Regions from separate parts of the Homo sapiens genome. Here region 1 is linked to region 2. The links come from fine-mapping of genetic effects on gene expression. Tissue or cell type: testis. Region 2 holds a variant in brackets; the other region holds the start of a gene. All regions are shown on one strand. Distances are between the middles of the regions.

Region 1 (2,677 bases), 72 kb before region 2:
GGACCCATGGCCCCGCTTCTTGCTCTGAAGCATGACACCCCTGCCTCTTGCTCTGAAGAACACTTAGGGTGCTGTTGGGTGCGGGAACAAGCCAGGCTTGGGGGTGGGGGGCACGGGCAGTTAAAGAGATAGATGGAGAAGTGGCCTGAATCCAGCCACCAGGCAGAGGAAACCAGGGGAGGAGGGAGAGGCCTGGGGACAGGGGAGGGAGGCTGCTGCCCTCTACTCCCGAAGGGTCCCAGCAGCCCTCCTGGCCAGCACTACCCAAGGAAAGGAGTGAGGACTGGGCCTTGGACGGGGGTCCCTGTAGAGAGGGCCTTGCCAGAGGCTGGAGGGGGCTGGCCAGAAGGGTGGAGAGGGGGTGAGCAAACGGCAAGGCCTGAAGAGGCCAGTGGCCCTCTTGGAGGAGGCGTGGTGGGAGCACCGAGGATGGACAGCGTGGCTGGTGTGGCCAGCGTGGGGGCTGCCAACCGGGCTGGCCAGAAGGGCGAGGTGAGGGGCCCTGGGGTTCCGGGCTCCCGGGTAAAAACAGCCAGATGGAGAGAGGGGCTTCAGACCCCAGGCCCGGGGACCCGCCCTCCCCAGCACTACAGCCCCGGTTCTCCACTTCCAGCTCCCAGCAGCTGCAAGCGCAGCGGTGCGGGGCCAGGCTGTGGCCTGGAGCTGCCAAAGGGCAGGGGCACGGGTGTGGGGGGCGTGCAGGCCGGGGTCCCGGGAGGCAGGGCAGACAGGCCCGAAAGAGTGCGACGGCGGCGGGAGGTCTCTGGGGCTGGGAGGGGTGCGGGCGTGGGCGGGGCGCGAGCAGCAGGGGCGCGGGCCCGGGCTTCAGGCTGTGGGGCCGGGAGTGCGGGGCGGGACTGCTGCGGCCCCGCGTCCTGTGGAGTCTGCGGCGCGGGGAGTGGGGGTCGGGGCGGGGAGGAACGTGGGGTGCGGGACAGGAGGGGGGCAGGGAGGGAGAAGAAGGCGGCGCGGGGCGGGGCGGGCGCAGGGCTGGGGACGGCACGGGCGCGCGGCACGGGCGCTGGCGCGTGCGGGGGGGGCGGCGCGGCCTCCGGAAGCGAGGGGGCGCTGTGCCAGGCGGCGGCCGTGCGGGGCGGGCGCGCTGCTCCTTCCGCCTCGCGGACCCCGGAAGCGCGCGTGGCCGCCATGGCGCGGAATGTGGTGTGAGTAGGGGTCGTCACCCCCCCGTCGCGGGGCGCCCCTTAGTGTCACAAGCAGACGGACCCCACAGGGCGCGCGGACTCCGGGGAGCGGGGTGGGCGTCCCTGGGCCGCCTCCTGGCCCGGGCGAGGCAGGGTTCTCCGGGACCCCCTGTCATGCCTTGAGACACGCGAGGCGGGTGGCGGAGGAGCCCCCCGCCAGGTTTAGGGCAACCCCAGGGGGCGGGCGTGGCCGGGCTGGGGACAGAGGGTCCGAGCCAAACCCATGGAGGCCACGGTGCCCCCGCGTGGGGAGTGGGAGGGTGGCCCGGGGTCAGGCCCGGGGCTGGTCCCGCAGCCAGGGCCGAGGGAGCTGTTTGGAGACGTTTCTGATCGTCACGGGGCGGGGGCCACGTCGGCTGTTGGGTCCAGGCGGGGAGGCCCGGGCGGCCCCCACCGCAGCGCGGGCGCGGCCTGAGGCAGAGGAGCTGGGAATCCAGATTGGGTTTGAGTGGGAAAGGGCAGCTGACCGCAGCCCTCAGGGCTTTGGGGCAGGCAGGGCGGGAGGCCCGGTTCTGCTCAGCCCAGACCCCCCACGCCCACTCTGCATGTTCTCTGGATTCCCAGGGGGCCATCGGGGCGCTGTCCTGCACCACTTCGCCCTCCCCAAATTGAAGCAGGAAGCCCTGCATATTTCTTGGTGAACGAATGACTCAGGCGTAATCAGTAGATGTGGGCTCCCGGGTGGGTTTTGGAGAACAGTAATCAGTGTTTCTGGAGAGGGACGGTCAAGGGGCCAGGGTGTGGCTTTGGAGGCCCCTGCACATAGCTGGGGAGAGAGGGGAGGGTGGCAGGTGGGACCCCCAGTGGAGGAGGCTTCCTTCAGCAGACACCTGGGACCGGTGCTGCGCGTGGCCCTGACCTTGGGGAACACCCAGCACCAAGGAAGAAAAGGTCTGAGTGAGGCCAACACTGCCCTGAGCCTCACGTGAATTCCACGCTGGCCCTTCGCCTGTCCCTGGAGAATGAGGAGGAAGTGAGGGTCAGAGGACCCGGGTGGGGTGTTCCTGAAGGGCCAAGGGTGGTGGGCCCCTGGAAACGGATCAGGTGTGGTTGCCTTGGAGGCAGCGGGGCCCGCTCGCCCAGCAGTGCACACACTCCTGTTGCCAGGGAGCCTTTGCAGGGAGCGCTGACTGGACTTGCTGTGGACTGGATGCAGCTGGGGTGGGGGTGCCGAGAGGGTGGGATCCTGGGTGAGTCACTCGTGGGGCCGTGGGGAGGCAGGCTGGTGGCAGTGAGCCAGGTTTTTGTGTTTTGAGGAAGAAGTTAGTGCAGAGTTCTACTTGAGATAGGTTACCGTGGAGGTGCTTGTGAAATCCCATGCGGAGTGCTTGGGGTGCTCCCTGGGGAGAGTGGGACTGAGGGAACTGAGGGCTGGTGGGCCCACAAGGGTTCGAGAACAAAAGAGAGGCCTTAGAGCCCTGTCCTGGGGCCCTGGGTGTCGACAGTGCAGATTGTTCCAGATCTGCAGGCTCCAT
Region 2 (2,677 bases):
CCTGTGCTTCAGGAGAGGTTGCCCAGGAACCCCCAACCTCCAGTCCCCTCACAGCTACCGGAATCCAAAGAAGCAAGAGAGTCCAGATAGGAGAGAAGTTTGGACTCCATTCTGGGGAGCCTGGGCGGGGGAGCTCTGTGAAGGAGCCGCAGGGTGAGCCAAGGCCAGGGTCCTCACCAGGGTGTCTGGGCCAGGGCTGCCCTCCCATTCCAAGCTCCGAGGGTGGAGGGTGAGCCCCTGGCAGTTTTGCTGCCCCTGGCCCCAGACCTGCCTGCTCCAGCACCCCTCGCCTGGCAGACCAGGGCTCAGGGAGGGGAGGCTGCACCCGCCTCAGGCAGAGTAGGGGCACAGGATGCTGATTTCTGAATCGGCAGCTGAGGCTGTTCCAAGCATCAGGGGCTCCCAGCAGGGCTGAAGAGAGGGGCTTGGAGGTGGATTCGGCCCCTACTTGGATCTGGAGTGCAGGCTAGTGGGGGTGCAGAAGGCCTAAGGGGTGAGGGGCTGCTCAGAGACGGCTGGTGTCACACACCTGAGAGAGGTGAGATGGGCAAGGAGGGGGAGGTGGGGGAGGAGAGGCGCAGCGGCGTGGGGGCAGGCACCCGAGAGATGGCAGGCCTGGGCAGCGTGGAACATTCATGTGCTGGGAAGGGGGCTTGGAAGAGGGGACCCATCAGGGACACAGCCCAGACTCACTGTCCCAGCCCCTCAACACCTCCCCCTTACCTTGGCTCCAGAAAACCCAAGGACATCGGGCTCTTTGGGGGTCCTGGTCATCCTGCACCGAGACCCCCAGAGGGACCCTGCCACCCCTCACCTCTGCTTTAGAAAACCCAAGCACAGCGGGTTCTTTGGGACCCCTGGTCATCCTGCACCCAGGCCTCCAGAGGGGCCCCGCCACAGTCCATCCCCTTCGCCCAGGTCCCCTCGGATCAGGGCCTGCCAGGGTGGTGTGGCAAAGGGGCCTGCATCGCGCCAACCTCTCGCAGCTCTCCAGCGGGTGCAGCCAGGCTCTGGCCCCCACACGCTTGGGCTTTGCTCCCTTCCCGTTTTATGAGGAATAAAAGGGGCTGTAAACCCTGCGCGTGGACAAAGTGCACCATATAAACGGCTCCTGGTAATAATGACATTTGCAGCGGTGCCCCTCAGCCAGGCATGTTCAGGGGGAGGGAGAGCCTGTCCCGGACACGCAGCATCTGGCCCCACCCCTGACAGAGGGGCAGGCACCACACACCACACACCACATACCACAGACACCACAGACACCACAGGCACGACCCTCCGAAGGACCAGCAGAGGCTGCACCTGGGGAGGCTGGGGGAGACGC[G/A]AGAACAGGGGCACTCCAAGAAAAGGCCAGGCTCCCTCTGACCCCATGTCCTCACCCCCATAGACACACACCTTCCAGCACGTGGCACTTTGTTAGGGACGTCAGTGGCTTGTGTTGCCACCTTATGAGGATAAGCAAGGCTGGGCGGTGGCTCTTTTGCCGTTTCCCTCCACGTAGCATGCCCTTGAGCCCTGGGACTCAGTTTCCCCATCTGACTCTTGGGTGTCTCACAGAGCCTTTCAAAGATTACAACGGGGCTGGGGGAAGACTGCGGCCAAGCCTGTGCCCCTTCCCTTCCTCTCACAGCTCCACAGGTGCAGATGGCCGTGGCCCTGTGCCACCCCTCTACAAACCACCAAGCCAGAGCAGGGTGGGGGTGCCAGGCCCCGGGGCTGAGGGCCACAGGAAGGCTTGGGGATTAGACGTGTTTCCCTTCCCTCTACATGCTCTGTCTCGCAGAAGCTGGCCCGGGAGGACTCCTGTCACCTTTTAAGGTGAATTTCCTATTAAGAAGATGCTTTTGTTCAGATATTGCCCAGTGGAATGTGCTTTCCTTAGTCCCACCCAGGGAAGCCAGCGGGCACCGCCTTGAGCAGTGACAGTGACCGGTAGTAGGGATCTGCCTGCGGCTGGAGGCCTCGTAGGAGACTTTCACGGAGTGCCTGGTCTCCTGAACCATCCGCGGAGGGGCAGAAGGCCCCTGGCACGTCAGATCTCTTGTCCTTGTTTAAACAAAATGGAATATTTTCCCCTTAATAAAACTCTTGGGAAGAATTGCCCATTTCTGTCTTTCAGGGACATCACCTTTCATAGAATGGCCCTGATCCCGAGTCATCCTGTAAAAATGGAATTTACAGCCAGGTGCGGTGGCGCACGCCTGTAATCCCAGAATTCTGGGAGGCCAAGGTGGGTGGATCACCTGAGGTCGGGAGTTTGAGACCAGCCTGACCAACACAGAGAAACTCCGTCTATACTAAAAGCACAAAAATTAGCTGGGCGTGGTGGCGCCTGCCTGTAATGTGAGCTAGCTGCTCGGGAGGCTGAGGCAAGAGAACCACTGGAACCCGGGAGGCGGAGGTTGCAGTGAGCGGAGATCGCGCCACTGCACTCCAGCCTGGGCAACAAGAGCAAAACTCCGTCTCAAAAAAAAAAAAAAAAAAAGGAATTAAAGGAATTTACTGCCAGTGCAGGGGTGTGCTGGGATGCTTTAACAATGGGCTCTCAGGGAGAAAACACATGCTTTGCTTTGGAGCATATTCCAGTGACCATGGTGTAAATATTCCCACCCAGGCTGATTGTCAAGCAACCCGAAATGCTGAACTCAGCAGGGGAGAGGATTGGCCATTTCAGGGT

Evidence for each region. PIP is the estimated chance that this variant, and not a neighbour inherited with it, causes the effect.
Region 1: it holds the start of MRPL23, and the variant in region 2 is fine-mapped to the expression of MRPL23 in testis (GTEx, PIP above 0.99).

What each region holds. Positions count from the first base shown.
Region 1 is chr11:1,946,217-1,948,893 of GRCh38, forward strand. It overlaps MRPL23 (mitochondrial ribosomal protein L23), which reads left to right and starts at 1,116. Exons shown (of 5, transcript NM_021134.4): 1 at 1,116-1,163. The coding sequence starts at 1,147.
Region 2 is chr11:2,017,923-2,020,599 of GRCh38, forward strand. No RefSeq gene overlaps it. Among named protein-coding and RNA genes, the nearest start is that of H19, 21 kb to the left of the region's middle. The variant G/A (reference allele first, on the strand shown) is at 1,325.